Regions from separate parts of the Homo sapiens genome. Here region 2 is linked to region 1. The links come from fine-mapping of genetic effects on gene expression. A gene starts in region 1. The other region holds a variant in brackets. All regions are shown on one strand. Distances are from middle to middle. Region 1 holds the start of BCL2L12 (BCL2 like 12). Region 2 overlaps PRR12 (proline rich 12).

Region 1 (8,319 bases):
GGCCCCGGTAGAAGGCTGTCACCTCGAACTCCCACTCTGAGCAGCGGCAGCAGCGGCATGAAGGGGAGAGGGGTTGAGAATCAGGGGCTGCCGCCCAGACCTCAGCCCTCCCAGCCTGCAGCTGACACTCACCTTCCCCCGGCACCAACAGCCGCTTCAGTGGGTTCTCAGAGGGCCCCAGGTTTGGGAAGGGAGTGGGATTGTCCAAGCTGGGGCTCCGCAGGGGCTGAGGGCAGGGCTCAGGGGCTACAGCCAGGCTTGGGGGTCCCGGATCTGGGAGTGGGGCCAACACCATGTTACCCAGTAACTCATCCAGAATGTCTTCCTGGAGGGAAACAAAAAAAGAGAATCAGGCATTTCCATATCCTTTTCTGGAGACTTCATATGGACCAGGTCTGTTCTCAGCAACGCAGGGAGGTCAGGCTTGAGCTCTGCCTTCAAGGGGCTTCCAGCCTGGGGACAGAGCCAGCCATGGCATCAACAGCCAAACAAACACTAATGAACGCCAGGTGCTACCATTCCAACCCAAGGATCTGGCTCTATGCAGGTAAGACCTGGGCAAAGCAGGCTGGGTAGAATTTCAGAGGGGATGCTCCCCCAGCTTGGGCCTCAGCAGGATCAAGGTGAGGGAGTTTTTCAGTTCCCAAGAGGCTGACAGCCCCCTGCGAATCGAAATCCATGAAATCCCGGGAAGGTGTGCTCGGGCCTTGAATGCTGGGTGAAGACTTGGAATTTTCTCCTGAGGAGACCGGGGCAGGGACAGACAGGGTCAGCACTGGCTCAGGTGAGGGGCAGGCTGGAGGCAGGGGAGTGGGGGGATCGTCTAGAGGGAGAGGACAAGGCCCATGGAGACAGGTCGGAGACTGAGGGGCATGAAAGTTGGGCACATTCTCACCTGGGTATCAGAAGTACTGCCTCCACCATTGGTGTCCGGAGAGGTGTCTGGCTGGGAAAAGTCCCCAACTCCTGTTGAGAAAAGTGGTGAGGGGAGTAGGAGTGCCAGGAACCCTTGGGGCCCCAGCCTCCCACACGAACCCCAAGCTGGCAGACCTGAGTTCACAAACTCGTAGATTTTATGTGGGTCGTGAGGGTCCTTGCTCCGGTCCTCTGCTAAACGCAACCCTTCTTTGCGGTTGAGGGCAGAGCGGAAATTCCTCTTCCAGGTTGGCAGGTCTGGCTTATCCCTCCCGGGAACATATGCACCAGTGGCCTCGGCCCAGGCCTGGGGCAACAGTGGTGTCAGGATGGTGGGGGAGGACGACTTAGATCCTGCTCCTGGGGCCCTAACCCTGTCTCCCGAGTCCTAACACCACCCTCTTTCCCTGGCAAGTTCTAACTCTGCAAGGTCCATCCCCAAATCCCCCCGTCCCACCTACCTCCATCCCCCACCTCTAGTTTTCAAAAGGCTTTTTTTCTTTTTGAGATGGAGTTTCACTCCTGTCACCCAGGCTGGAATGCAATGGTGCAATCTCAGCTCACTGCAACTTCCGCCTCCCCGGTTCAAGCGATTCTCCTGTCTCAGCCTCCTGAGTAGCTGGGATTACAGGTGGGCACCACTACACCTGGCTAATTTTTGTATTTTTAGTAGAGATGGGGTTTCACCATGTTGGCCAGGCTGGTCTTGAACTCCTGACCTCAGGTGATCCGTCCTCCTCGGCCTCCCAAAGTGCTGGGATTACAGGCATGAGCTACTGTGCTCGGCCTCTTCAAAAGCCTTTGAAACCTCTTTGGTTTTTGTTTTGTTTCGCTTTTGTTTTTAAAGAGATGGAGCCTATGTTGCCCAAGCTGGCCTCAAACTCCTGGGCTCAAGCGATCCTCCCGCCTTGGCCTTGCAAAGTGCTAGGATTACAGGTGTGAACCACCGCCCCCGGCCCAAAAACCTTTTCTTTCTAAGCCAGGCTTCCAAGTCCAACTTGGTGTCTAATCCCGTGCACCACCTGCCCCGCGACACCCTCTGTGATAACCCCGCCCCTCACACTGTTTACCACCTCTGGCATATACTAATTCGGTAGTTAGGAACCTCAGATTTGGGGCTCCAGGCCTCACCTCTGATGTTTCAAGAACCATCCCCCAGTATCTATCCTACAACCAAGAGCCCCGGCCTCTAGAAAGCCCCAAACCCCCAGGATGCATTTCCTTTGCGTACTAACCGGCTTTCCCGGTTTTATTCCCGTAACCCTGCAGCTCCAACCCTGCTTGCGCCCCACCATCAGTCAGCGGATCCGGCTAGCCCCGCCCCTCCCGTTCTAGCCCCACCCACCAGCGTTGGCACGAGCCCGCCCCTCGCGCGCCACCTCCGCCTTCTCAGCCGGGCCCACTAGGAGTCCTTTCCGCCCAGCGCGCAGCTCCGGGTTTCCAGCGTCCCAGGTCGTCGCACGCACCTGGAAGATTCCGAAATCCTCCTGCTGTGCATCCTGCCGTAGGCCGTGCTTCCAAGGGATGCGGAAGCGCGTGCGGCTCTTGTTCACCCAGGCCACGCCCTCCAGTTGCCCCAGGTCCAGCTGCGACACCAGCCAGGGCAGGATCCGTGGCTTTGGGGTTCCCATGGTCCGGCCTGCGCGTATAGGGCATTTCCTGGGCGCGACCGGCCTCCCCCGGACCCACCTGGCCTGGAGTTTCCGCACCCAGACCTCCTTCTCACGGGCCACGGCACAGGTCCTTCACCCATATTTTCGGGGGTACAAACAGGAAACCTCCTCTTCCCATCCTCCCATCCTCCCGAGAGGCTCTCTAATCAGCTAGGGTTCCTTCCCATATCCATGGCACATCCTTCCCCAGCGTCTTCAGTGCAGACCCTCCACTCCCTCAATTCCGCCAGTATAGACCTCCTCCCTCCCCCACATCATCGAAAGTAAGTATCCCCACTTTCAGGGTAGCATCCTCTTTCCCTAGTTATTTCAGTGCAGAATCGATTCACGTGTAAGCCTCTACCTCCTGCACTTACCCCAATGTAGACCCCCTTCCACAGTCCCCCTACAGAAGATCTCCCAAAACATTTCCAACACAGAACTTCCATTCAATTCCCCTCCGACTGCCCGCCTCCCTCCTCCAGGACAGAGCACGCCCCAGGTTTCGAGACTGAACTACCCCCATCTACGGAGTCCACCCCTCCCTCTCTAGAACCCCCTCAGTGTAGACGCCTCCTCTTTTCCTCTTTCCTCCCTACTTTTTCTAGTTTTTCTGCAGCCGACCTCCAGCGTCGGCCACTGTAGCTCCTTCCTTGCTCCACTTTCCCCAGAGTACACAGCCTGCCTTTCCACTCTCCGTGCAGACCCATCCTCTTTCCCGCTCCTCGCTCTCGGACGCCACCAACGCTCTCCCGGGCTCTTCCGCGTTACCTACGATGGAAGGTCGGGGCGTGCGGGCAGCTGGAACCCACCCCTGTCTTGGAGCTCCGGGTAGCTCTCAAACTCGAGGCTGCGCACCCCCTTTCCCGTCAGCTGAGCTCTAGAGCGCTGGGGCTTTCTTTTTGATCGACTTCTTGAAATAAAACCAACTTTATCATTCTTTGGGTAACAGACCCAAAAGCCGATGGGACGGCCCGCTGGGCTGTTCCCGCCCCTATGCCCTTTTTTGGGTTTCCGGCCAGAGGCATGCTGGGAGCGTCACATGCAAATTGAGCGTGCACCCAGCGTTCCGCCCTTTCTACGCTGGGCCGGTTATCGACCCGGCCCAGTGCGCAGGCGCGGGAAAGTTGAACTAATAAAGTTTGTACGAGTTCAGTGGAGGAGACCGCAAGTTGAGTGGAGGAGGCGGCGGTGGGGCCCCGGACCAGGTCAGCGGGGTGTTGACGAGGGGTGGGGTGAGGAGGGAAGAGGAGGGGGCCGGGATCCAGTGGTGGGCACCCCAGTCCCGCTTCTCTGATATCCAAGGGTCCAGGGTCCTCTAGATTCCAGCAGGGGTCGGAGATTTGGAACTACACCTCACAGCAGGCTGCGCGGCGAAGAAGCGCGGACCTAGGGGAAGATTTGCCCTGAAACCTCTTGGGATTGGTAGTTCCCGATGCTTTAAGGGTTTCAGGAGTTTGGCATATGCCTCTTATAGAATCCAGGAGTTGGGGCGCTAAGCCTCTTCTTCCTGGGAGACCTAAGGGTCTGGGGCTCCAGTTCCTTTTTCTCTAAGACTCAGAAGTCCAGGACCCCAGCTCCCTCCTCCTTTAGACCCACGAATCTGGGCACCCAGCCCCACCACCTTTCCTTGGATCGAAGAGTCTTTTTCCTGATCGCTTTTTCGTCTGAGGACTCAAGAGTCTAGGCCCCCAGACCCACACTCTCCAAAGGACCCAGGAGTCCAGGCCCTCAGCACCTTCCTTGGGACTCACAAGTCCTGGTCCCCAAGCCTCCACTTCTTGCTAAACCCTTGGAGTCCAGTCCCTAACCCTCTCTCTCACAGGTGCCTCCATGGCAGGCTCTGAAGAGCTGGGGCTCCGGGAAGACACGCTGAGGGTCCTAGCTGCCTTCCTTAGGCGTGGTGAGGCTGCCGGGTCTCCTGTTCCAACTCCACCTAGGTAAGAGGAGTGGCCCTTCTCCCCCAGGGGCCAGCATTTGAGGCTCCCTCCTAACTCTTGCTCCTGGTCTCAGTCTGTCTCCTCTCTTTATATCTGGCTCTATTCTCTGTCTTTGGGGTTTTGGAGAGAGGTCCTCAGCGGGGGAGGGAGGGAGTTGGGGAAAGAGACTGCTTGCAGGGGATCTCTGGTGGGGTCAGTCTCTGAAGTCCTCCTCTCCAGAAGCCCTGCCCAAGAAGAGCCAACAGACTTCCTGAGCCGCCTTCGAAGATGTCTTCCCTGCTCCCTGGGGCGAGGAGCAGCCCCCTCTGAGTCCCCTCGGCCTTGCTCTCTGCCCATCCGCCCCTGCTATGGTTTAGAGCCTGGTAAGAGATTTCCATGATCATCTATGAAGCCGGCAGAACACGGGATAAGGTGCTAGTTTAAGATCACTCAGCTAGGGGGTGGCTGTGTGGAGTCTCTAGCACCAGCCTTCAGGACAGAACCGTCCTGTCCTCTCCCCTCCCCAGTTAGATTTCTGTCAATTCTGTGGGTTGGCTTTCAGAGAGCATTTGGTCAATCTGGTTGTTGTCTCTTTCCTTCCATAACTACTTCCCTGCCCCTAGGACTTTTGTAGCCAGGAATACCCCTGATAGAGGGGCAGAAGGGCTGGTTTTCAATCACATCTCCCTGGCTGTTTTAGTTGCGTGACTCTGGGGAAAATGCTTTCTCTTCCCTGCTCCCCTGTTTTTCCAATAGCAGAGTAGGAATTGGGGAGGAGGTCACTGGACTTGATCAAGGTGACCCACAAGTTTCCTCATAGGTGTGAACCTGGACAGACTAGTAATGGCTGCTGGGAGTGCTAGCTTGAAAAGGGGTTCACAGCTTGGGAGAGGAAGTGCTGTGATCAATTGGTGATGTCTGTAGTGAGTGAGGGAAGGGGATACTAACAGTAATGTCTTGTGTTTGCCTTCCTTGGATGAGATCATCTTCAAGGTCTAGTTGAGCTCTGACAGTCTTTTGGAGACAGATTGTTGCTCTGTCACCCAGGCTGGAGTGCAGGGGTGCAATCTCGACTCACTGCAATCCCCACCTCCTGGGTTCAAGCGATTCTCGTGCCTCAGCCTCCCGAGTGACTGGGATTACAGGTGCACGCCAGCATACTAGCTGATTTTTATACTTTTAGTAGACACGGGGTTTCGCCACGTTGGCCAGGCTGGCCTCAAACTCCTGGCCTCAAGTGACCCTCCCACGTCGGCCTCCCAAAATGTTGAGATTGCAGACGTGAGCCACCGCACCCTGTCAGCTCTGACATTCTTTTTTTTTTTTTTTTTTTTGAGACGGAGTTTCGCCCTTGTTGCCCAGGCTGGAGTGCAATGGCCCGATCTCGGCTCACCACAACCTCTACCTCCCGGGTTCAAGTAATTCTCCTGCCTCAGCCTCCCAAGTAGCTGGGATTATAGGCATGCGCCACCATGCCCGGCTAATTTTTTTTGTATTTTTAGTAGAGATGGGGTTTCTCCATGTTGGTCAGGCTGCTCTCGAACTCCCAACCTCAGGTGATCTGCCTGCCTCAGCCTCCCAAAGTGATGGGATTACAGGCGTGAGCCACTGCGCCTGGCCCCAGCTCTGACATTCTAAGTCCAGTCTGAGGATCTCATAAAGTGAAAAGTACAAGGGTTTTGGCATTTTTAACCAAGTTTTCTCACTGGGCCTCAGTTTACCCCATTATAAAATGGGAATCATGGCCAGGCTTGGTTGCTCACGCCTGTAATCCTAGCACTTTGGGAGGCTGAGGTGGGTGGATTGCCTGAGGTCAGCCTGGGCAACACGGTGAAACCCCATTTCTACTAAAATACAAAAAATTAGCCAGGTATGGCGGCGTGCGCCTGTAGTCCCAGCTACTCATGAGGCTGAGGCAGGAGAATTGCGAGACTCCGTTTCCCAAAATCAATACATAAATAAATAATAAATAAAATGGGAATCATTGCCACCTGCCAAGGTAGTTGGGGGAAGGAGAGAATCCGTAAGTTTCCAATGTCCTGGAAACCTGTCATTAACTCTTTTCACCCCAGGCCCAGCTACTCCAGACTTCTATGCTTTGGTGGCCCAGCGGCTGGAACAGCTGGTCCAAGAGCAGCTGAAATCTCCGCCCAGCCCAGGTGAGGCACAGAGGAGCCCCAGAGAAGGATGGCGGTGGGAGGATAGTCAGGGTTCTGCCCCCAGCCAAATTCTCTTCTGCCTCCAGAATTACAGGGTCCCCCATCGACAGAGAAGGAAGCCATACTGCGGAGGCTGGTGGCCCTGCTGGAGGAGGAGGCAGAAGTCATTAACCAGAAGGTGATGGGCATCTGTCCCACTCCTTGGCAAGGACAGGAGTTGCGGAATGGTGGGGCACTGGGATCAGAAGCTGGATCTGTATTTTCTTTGGATGGTCAGGTGGAAAGAGGCTGGGACAAGGTTTCAATGAAGGGTTGAGGCCGGGTGTGGTGGCTCACGCCTGTAATCCCAGCACTTTGGGAGGCCGAGTTGGGTGGATGACTTGAGGTCAGGAGTTCGAGACCAGCCTGGCCAACATGGTGAAACCCCATCTCTACTAAAAATACAAAAATCGGACAGGTGTGGTGGTGCGCTTCTGTAATCCCAGCTACTCAGAAGGCTGAGGCAGGAGAATCGCTTGAGCCCAGGAGGTGGAGGTTGCAGTGAGCCAAGATTGCGCCACTGCACTCCAGCCTGGGTGACAGAGTGAGACTCTGTCTTTAAAAAAAAAAAAAAAAAAGAATAGTTGAATGACAGGGGTATGGTTAGGGTAGTACTGTACCGTAAATTAGTTGTTTTAATTGATTGTTTAGAGGGGCATGGCCTAAATGCAGAGGGTGTGGCCATCAGAAACATTATCCACAAGAGACTGGCCAAGCTGGGGAAGTAAGTGAATGAATGTGGGGGTGGGGGGAGTGGCTAAAATCTTACTGAGCATAGAAGGGACCTGGCTTAGAATGTAGGGGAAAATGTACTACCAGAGGAGGTGTGGCTTGTGGCTGTGTCCTGGAATCTGATTGGCTTCGGAGCTTGGACAAGGTACATCGTCCTTTAATATTAATTGAATGGTAGAGGGCAAGATTGTTGTAGACACTAGGTTGGCCCCTGGGAAAGGTCACCAGGGGCATGGCTAGATTAACTCAGTTACAGTAGAGATTGGCCCTGATTGGCTGTTGAGGCAAGGGCCTGGCATGGCTTAGGGACTCACGTTCCAGGCCACTATCCCGGGGGTAGTTTGGCAGAGACCCTGGAGTCTGGCTTGATTGGCTAATATGGATGAGGGGTGGCCTAGAACCTTAGCATCTAGAACGATCCTGAACCGGGAAGCCACGCCTCCCGGCCCTCTATTGGCTGGCCCCGGGGGCGCTGCTGACGCGGACCCTGCCTCTTCCACCCTACAGCTGGCCTCGGACCCCGCCCTGCGCAGCAAGCTGGTCCGCCTGTCCTCCGACTCTTTCGCCCGCCTGGTGGAGCTGTTCTGTAGCCGGGATGACAGCTCTCGCCCAAGCCGAGCATGCCCCGGGCCCCCGCCTCCTTCCCCGGAGCCCCTGGCCCGCCTGGCCCTAGCCATGGAGCTGAGCCGGCGCGTGGCCGGGCTGGGGGGCACCCTGGCCGGACTCAGCGTGGAGCACGTGCACAGCTTCACGCCCTGGATCCAGGCCCACGGGGGCTGGGTGAGCCGCTGAAGCCTCTCTCTCCGGGCCTCACTTTACCTAACTGTCATGTGATAGAGGAGGGGCGGGGACTTCTTAGGTTCCTCTCAGACCTCAGGTATTCTCCCAGCTCCACTGCGTTCG
Region 2 (8,319 bases), 67 kb before region 1:
TATCTGAGCTGTGGAGGCAGCTACCCCTCCATGGGCCACCGGGCCAACCTGGCCTGCAGCCCCCTGGGTGGTGGGGAGCCCTCCCCGGGTGCTGGGGAGCCTAGCAAGGCTGGTCCCAGCGGAGCCACGGCTGGGGCATCTGGCCGGGCCACGGGCCCTGAGGCAGCAGGGGGCGGTGGGGCTGGGGGTGGTGGTGGAGGTTACCGCCCCATCATTCAGTCGCCTGGGTACAAGACGGGCAAAGGTGGTTATGGAGCAGCTGCCGGGGGTGCCACCAGGCCCCCCCCACCCCGTTCGACCGCCACCCCCAAATGTCAGAGCCTGGGTGGGCCAGCAGCCGCCTATGCCACTGGGAAGGCCTCTGGGGCTGGAGGGGCAGGGGGCCAGGCTTATTCCCCCGGTCAGCCTCAAGGGCTTCTGGGACCCCAGGCCTACGGGCAAGGGTTTGGAGGGGGGCAGGCACAGGACTTGAGCAAAGCCCCCAGCTACTCAGGGGGCCCCCCACAGCCCCCCAGCGGCCCCCCTCCTCCTGGCCTGGCCACATGTCAGAGCTACTCCCCGGACCAGCTGCAGGGGCAGCTGTATGGGGTGCAGGGCGAGCCATACCCAGGGCCAGCCGCCCACTCCCAGGGGCTGCCCACAGCCAGCCCCTCGCTCAGCTACAGTACCGGCCATTCCCCAGCGCTCTCGGGCCATGGGGGTGGCTGGGGACCCAGCTCCCTGGGAGGCGGCGGTGAGGCCAGCCCATCTCACATCATTCGTCCGCTCCAGTCACCGCCTGCCACCGGCCGTCCACCTGGAGTCGGCTCTCCAGGAGCCCCTGGCAAATACCTGAGCTCAGTCTTGGCCTCAGCGCCTTTCCTGGCACCTCCGGGAGCTGGCAGCTATGCAGCCGGAGCAGGTGGCTACAAGGGCAAGGGGGATGGCTCGGAGCTGCTGGCGGGCCCAGGTGGGCCTCCTGCGGAGCGCACAGAGGATGAGGAGTTCCTTATCCAGCACCTCTTGCAGGCGCCCAGCCCTCCTCGGACCTCAGGGGCGGACGGCTTGGTGGGCGAGGACGGGGCAGCAGATGCCTCTAAGGGACTTGGGGGGAGTGGCGGGGCCGGGGGACCACCGGGTACACCCTACGAGTTGGCCAAGGAAGACCCCCAGAGGTACCACCTGCAGAGTGTCATCCGCACCAGTGCCAGCCTGGATGAGGGTGCCACTGCGGCACTGGAGCTGGGCCTGGGGAGGCTGAAGGAGAAGAAGAAAGGGCCAGAGCGGGGTGGCGAGACCCCCGAGGGGCTGGCCACCTCTGTTGTCCACTACGGGGCAGGCGCCAAGGAGCTGGGGGCCTTCTTGCAAAAGAGCCCTCCGCCCCCACCTCCCACGGCCCAGTCTACCCAGCCCACTCCCCATGGCCTCCTTCTGGAGGCCGGGGGCCCTGACCTCCCACTGGTGCTGCCTCCGCCTCCCCCCCAGCTGCTCCCCTCGGTCCTCAGCCATGCCCCCAGTCCCTCTCCCAGCGCCTCCAAAGTCGGCGTCCACCTCCTTGAGCCAGCCACCCGCGATGGGGCACCCCAGCCACCTCCACCGCCACCCCCGCCTCCACCACCCATGCCCCTGCAGCTCGAGGCCCACCTCCGCAGCCATGGCCTGGAGCCCGCGGCCCCCAGCCCCCGCCTGCGACCCGAGGAGAGCCTGGATCCGCCAGGCGCCATGCAGGAATTGCTCGGGGCTCTGGAGCCGCTGCCCCCGGCGCCTGGGGATACTGGCGTAGGCCCACCAAACTCGGAGGGCAAGGATCCCGCAGGCGCCTACCGCAGCCCCAGCCCGCAAGGCACCAAGGCGCCGCGTTTCGTGCCGCTCACCTCCATCTGCTTCCCTGACTCCTTGCTCCAAGACGAGGAGCGCAGCTTCTTCCCCACCATGGAGGAGATGTTCGGTGGAGGGGCCGCGGACGACTACGGCAAGGCCGGGCCACCTGAGGACGAGGGGGACCCCAAGGCTGGCGCTGGGCCACCCCCCGGCCCCCCTGCTTATGATCCCTATGGGCCCTACTGTCCTGGCCGGGCGTCGGGAGCCGGGCCCGAGACACCGGGCCTGGGCCTGGACCCCAACAAACCGCCTGAACTGCCCTCCACGGTCAACGCCGAGCCGCTGGGCCTGATCCAGAGTGGCCCCCACCAGGCGGCGCCACCACCCCCGCCTCCGCCACCGCCGCCTCCCGCGCCGGCCTCCGAACCCAAGGGTGGCCTCACCTCGCCCATCTTCTGCTCTACCAAGCCAAAGAAGCTGCTCAAGACATCCTCCTTCCACCTGCTGCGGCGCCGCGACCCACCCTTCCAGACCCCCAAGAAGCTGTACGCCCAGGAGTACGAGTTCGAGGCGGACGAGGACAAGGCCGATGTTCCCGCCGACATCCGCCTCAACCCCCGGCGCTTGCCTGACCTGGTCTCCAGCTGCCGCTCCCGTCCGGCCCTCTCGCCACTGGGGGACATCGACTTCTGCCCACCCAACCCAGGACCCGATGGCCCCCGGCGCCGTGGCCGCAAGCCCACGAAGGCGAAACGTGATGGGCCACCCCGGCCACGGGGGAGGCCCCGGATCCGCCCCCTGGAGGTCCCGACCACTGCGGGGCCCGCCTCGGCCTCCACGCCCACCGATGGCGCCAAGAAACCCCGGGGCCGGGGCCGAGGCCGGGGTCGAAAGGCTGAGGAGGCAGGGGGCACCCGGTTGGAGCCCCTGAAGCCACTTAAGGTGAGGGGAAATGGGGTCTTGTAGGGGATAGGGGAGGAGGAGCTGTGTCCGATGTTTGAGTCTTTTTTTTTTTTTTTTGAGACAGAGTCTCGCTCTGTCGTCCAGGCTGGAGTGCAGTGGCACGATCTCGGTTCACTGCAAGCTCCGCCTCCCGGGTTCACGCCATTCTCCTGCCTCAGCCTCCCGAGTAGCTGGGACTACAGTTGCCCGCCACCACGCCCGGCTAGTTTTTTTGTATTTTTAGTAGAGACGGGGTTTCACCGTATTAGTCAGGATGGTCTCGATCTCCTGGCCTCGTGATCCACCCGCCTCGGCCTCCCAAAGTGCTGGGATTACAGACCTGAGCCACCGCGCCCGGCCTCCCGATGTTTTGAGTCTTAAAGGACAGGTTTATGGCCGCACCTTGGCATTTTTGGGGCAGGGGGATAATAAGGTTTACATTTCTAAAATCTGTGAGGAAGTTAGCGTGAGGAATTTCAGGGTCTCACTGACAGAAAGACCTAAGAATTGAAATTCTGAATCTAGGCTGGGCAGTGTGGTTCATGCCTGTAATCCCAGCGCTTTGGGAGACTGAGGCGGGAGGATCTCTTGAACCCAGATGTTCGAGACCAGCCTGGTCAGCGTAGTGAGACCCTGGTCTCTATTAAAAACACAAAAATTTAGCCAGGTGTGGCTGCGTGTACCTACAGTCCCAGCTACTCAAGAGGTTGAGGTGGGAGGATCTCTTGAGCCCAGGAGTTCAAGGCTGCAGGGAGCTATGATTGCATCACTGTGGCCTGGGCCACAGAGTGAGACCCTGTCTCAAGAGATAAAGGAAATTCTGGGTTTAGGGAGAGAGGCAGGAGGTTGGAGCTTACGCTGGTTTGAAACTCCTGACCTCAAGTGATTTGCCTGCCTCAGTCTCCCAAGGTGCTGGGATTACAGGCACGAGCCACCTCACCCGGTCTGCTTGCTTTTAGTTTCTATATCCCAAAGGATGGGCATTCAGGGATCCTACATTCCTGGGTCTCATGGGAAGCGGGTCTAGGGACCTGAACTGGGCTGTAAGTGAAGAGGCTCAGTGAGTCCAAGTTCCTGGTCTTCTGAGGGAGGAACTCCAGTCTTGTCCTCCTAGAATCTAAGACAAGGGGTCTGCAGGTTTGAATTCTATAAATTCACAGGCTGAGCACCTGTAAATTTGGATTTTTGGGGGCTGAGGGAGGATGGGACTGGGGGCCCAGGCTACTGGGCCCTCACGGCCCGCCACTCCCATGTCTAGATCAAGCTGTCTGTGCCCAAGGCTGGCGAGGGTCTGGGAACCTCATCGGGTGATGCCATATCAGGCACTGACCACAACAGCCTGGACTCGAGCCTGACTCGGGAGAAGATCGAGGCCAAGATTAAGGAGGTGGAGGAGAAGCAGCCGGAGATGAAGTCGGGTTTCATGGCCTCCTTCTTGGACTTCCTCAAGTCAGGCAAGCGCCACCCACCACTCTACCAGGCGGGCCTGACGCCTCCGCTCAGCCCTCCCAAGAGTGTGCCACCCTCTGTGCCAGCCCGAGGCCTGCAGCCCCAGCCCCCTGCCACCCCTGCTGTGCCACATCCCCCACCTTCCGGAGCCTTTGGGCTTGGGGGCGCCCTGGAGGCTGCAGAGAGTGAGGGTCTGGGGCTTGGCTGCCCTTCACCCTGCAAGCGGCTTGATGAGGAGCTGAAGCGGAACCTCGAGACGCTGCCCTCCTTCTCCTCGGATGAGGAAGACTCTGTCGCCAAGAACCGAGACCTGCAGGAGAGCATCTCCTCCGCCATCTCTGCCCTCGATGACCCACCCCTTGCTGGGCCAAAAGACACTTCCACCCCAGATGGGCCGCCCTTGGCCCCCGCGGCTGCAGTTCCAGGGCCACCCCCTCTTCCGGGGCTCCCCAGTGCCAACAGCAATGGCACTCCCGGTGAGCTCTGGGCAGGTGGTCTGGGAGTAGAGCTTAAAGGTTATTATGATC[A/G]CTAGGTAACAGTTGTGCAGGTTACGCACTGTTTAAGAGACACCATTCACATACATGGTGTAAGCTTGCGTGTTTATGAAGGGACTTTCCTGATTACACAAGCATTTTGAGGAAGGTCTATCTTTTTCTAATTCACTCAGAGGTGCTAAGTGGACTAGGAGGGGCCCCAAGGCAGACACTGGAGAATGCAGGGAGACAGGGCAGGTGATAAGTTACAGGGACAGGACAGGGGCTACTCAGGTTCTGAATGGTGGGAGGTGTGGGAACTGAGGAGGGCTCTGAGTCAACTGTGTGTGAAGGTACAGAAAGATGTCTGGGGGCAGAGAAAGACTTGGGGATGGGGGTGGGCGGTGGAAGGGAAGGCTAGGGGCATAGGAAGGGTTTAGGTTGTGCTCTGGTTTTGGACACAGTTTAAGGAGTGTAATGTCAGAAACAGAGGCATTGGGAAATGAGAGGTGGGAGCTTACAGGAGGGCACAGAGGGGAGTGTTCAAAAAAAAAAAAAAACCATGACAGGCCGGGCATGGTGGACCACACCTGTAATCCTAGCACACTTTGGGAGGCTGAGACAGGAGGATCGCTTGAGCCCAGGAGGTTGAGGCTGCAGTGAGCCATGATTGAGCCACTGTACTCCAGCCTGGGTGACAGAGCAAGACCCTGTCTTAAACAAAAAACCCCAAAAACAAAACAAAAAGACCCTATAACGTTCTTTTTTTTTTTTCTTGAGACAGGGTCTCTCTATGTCACCCAGGCTGGAGTGTGGAGTGCAGTGGTGCGATCTTGGCTCACTGCAACCTCTGCCTTCCGCTCACCGCAACCTCTGCCTTCCAGGTTCAAGTGATTCTCCTGCCTCAGCCTCCCGAGTAGCTGGGACTACAGGCGCGCACCACCATGCCCAGCTAATTTTTGTATTTTTAGTAGAGACGGGGTTTCACCATGTTGGCCAGACTGGTCTCGAACTCCTGACCTCAAGTGATCCACCCACCTCAGCCTCCCAAAGTGCTGGGATTACAGGCATGAGCCACCATGCCTGCCCTCTGTGAGGTTCTTAAAAAGCCTGAAGAAGGGAGCTGGCAGACAGGGGAGAGGTTAGCAGTCTGCATACTGGTGAGCAGGCCAAGGAAAGGACAAAGATGGTCCTGGAGGGAGGAGGATGAGGCCTTGGAGGAAGAGGAGGTGAGGAAGTAGAGTTAGGGAGGTGATGATTTAGGAGTTGGGAGGGTCATTCAGGAAGAGGAGTTAAGAACCAGACAAGGGCTTTAAGACCACAAAGAGACATTCCAGGACTGAGAAGGGGATTAGGGATAGGAGACAGGTCTCCTTTGCAGCCGCAGGAGCCAGAGTAGGTCTCTGGAGAGACTCTGATAGGGTAGAAGGGACACTGGGAGCTGAGTGGTAGTTACAGAGGGGCTTTTGGTATAGAAAGCAGTGTTTAAAGGACAAGAGGAAAGGTGCCAGGAATGATGAATAACATCCAGGCCTGATGTCCCTGTCTCCCCCAGAGCCCCCGCTGCTGGAGGAGAAACCCCCACCCACTCCACCTCCTGCCCCGACTCCTCAGCCTCAGCCTCCGCCACCCCCTCCGCCGCCACAGCCAGCCCTGCCCTCGCCACCCCCGCTGGTGGCCCCCACGCCCAGCTCACCACCGCCACCGCCGCTGCCGCCGCCACCTCCACCAGCCATGCCCTCGCCTCCACCACCACCCCCACCAGCCGCTGCCCCACTGGCTGCTCCTCCTGAGGAGCCCGCCGCCCCGTCTCCCGAAGACCCCGAGCTGCCGGACACCCGGCCCCTGCATCTGGCCAAAAAGCAGGAGACGGCGGCAGTGTGTGGGGAGACGGACGAGGAGGCCGGCGAGAGTGGCGGAGAGGGCATCTTCCGGGAACGGGACGAGTTCGTCATCCGTGCTGAGGACATCCCTTCCCTCAAGGTGAGTCCCAGCCTTCTCCAGAAACTGGGCCTGATGGGTTTGGTCACCTGTTTGTTGAGTGCCCGCTGGATGACAGGCTTGTGCTGAGACCTGCAGATCCAGTCGTGGCCGGGCCGCCCTGGAATTTGCAGTCCTATGGGGCTGATAGAGGTGTCGAGGACCTGCGGGCCTCAGAGGTGTTATTTGCGTTTGTGTCTGTACATGCATTACCTGTATATAAGGTAAAGCGATTGTTAACGCGTATGTGTCTATATGTGCGTTACCTGTATATAAGGTGAACCGCTTGTTAATGTTTATGCAGATACCCTGCTGTGGGTGGTAGAGGACCAGTACTGTACAAGCAGATGAGGCTCTGGCCCTAGGGAGCTTCTAGTTTAATGGAACCAGCCAGAGAGGCGGGCTGCTTTGCCATTTATGGCACAATGGTGGAAATGTGTCATTGACATAGACTACCTGCAGATACACACTTATGTAACCTGTAAATATAATCATGAATTGGGCCGGACGCGGCAGCTTACACCTGTAATCTCAGCACTTTGGGAGTTTGAGACCAGCCTAGGCAACATAATGAAACCTTTTCTCTCAAACAAACAAAAAAAGTGAATCATTTAGGAATGGTTATTGTGTGTCAGGCCATATCTTTTTGTTTTTTTGAGATGGAGTTTCGCTCTTGTCCAGGCTGGAGTGCGATGGCTCAATCTCGGCTCACTGCAGCCTCTGCCTCCCAGGTTCAAGCGATTCTCTTGACTTGGCCTCCCAACTATCTGGGACTACAGGCGCAGGCCACCACACCCGGCTGATTTTTGTGTTTTTAGTAGAAATGGGGTTTCACTGTGTTGGCCAGGCTGGTCTCGAACTCCTGACCTCAGATGACCCACCTGCCTTGGCCTCCCAAAGTGCTGGGATTACAGGTGTGAGCCACTGTGCCTGGCTGGCCATAGCTTCAATATTTACCTTAAATACTTAAATACGTAAATGCAGACCAACAGCCTGTTCACTGCTTCCAGTTTGTCTACCGCAGGAGCTTGAAAACTATGGCCCCTAGGCCAAATCCAGCCCACTGCTTGTTTTTGCAAATAAAGTTTTATTGGCACACAACCATGCCCATTCATTTACATGTTGTCTATGGCTGTTTTTCCCATATGGCAGAGAGCTGGGTAGTTAGCTGGCCCTCAATGGCAAAAAATATCTCTGGCTCATCATGAATAAAGTTTGCTGGCCTCTACTGTACTGGGTTCACTGGACAAATAGAGTTGGATCAGAGGATTAATGTGCAAGGCACTTGACAGGGGTAGGTGTTACCAGGTGCCCATGGAGTGCTCTGCACAGGGCATGCGGCTGAGCAGGTGCTCAGGAGGTCAGCCCATTCTCACCCTGATGGTGGCATGGACGCCAAGGCCATTCTCCATGTCAATCATTGTCATTGATTGTACTGATTATGATACAGGATTATTGTTTGGCCCTTCGTGTACAGTGTGACATTTAATCTTGGCGGGGCATGGCGGTTCACGCCTGTAATCCCAGCACTTCGGGAGGCCAAGGCAGGTGGATCACTTGAGGTCAGGAGCTTGAGACCAGCCTGGCCAACATGGTGAAACCCCGTCTTTACTAAAAATACAAAAAATTAACTGGGCGTGGTAGGGCGCACCTGTGATCCCATCTACTCGGGAGG

The links.
Region 2: its variant is fine-mapped to the expression of BCL2L12 in whole blood (TOPMed, PIP above 0.99).

The regions. Positions count from the first base shown.
Region 1 is chr19:49,662,293-49,670,611 of GRCh38, forward strand. BCL2L12 (BCL2 like 12) reads left to right here and starts at 3,641. Exons shown (of 7, transcript NM_138639.2): 1 at 3,641-3,775; 2 at 4,393-4,507; 3 at 4,727-4,869; 4 at 6,559-6,645; 5 at 6,732-6,823; 6 at 7,924-8,196. The coding sequence starts at 4,401. It overlaps IRF3 (interferon regulatory factor 3), which reads right to left and starts at 3,565. Exons shown (of 8, transcript NM_001571.6): 1 at 3,339-3,565; 2 at 2,382-2,554; 3 at 1,051-1,222; 4 at 896-966; 5 at 133-325; 6 at 1-36. The coding sequence starts at 2,546. RefSeq lists silencers at 3,544-3,693, 3,734-3,813.
Region 2 is chr19:49,595,272-49,603,590 of GRCh38, forward strand. PRR12 (proline rich 12) reads left to right here. Exons shown (of 14, transcript NM_020719.3): 4 at 1-2,742; 5 at 4,001-4,667; 6 at 6,220-6,647. Among named protein-coding and RNA genes, the nearest start is that of PRR12, 8.2 kb to the left of the region's middle. The variant A/G (reference allele first, on the strand shown) is at 4,719.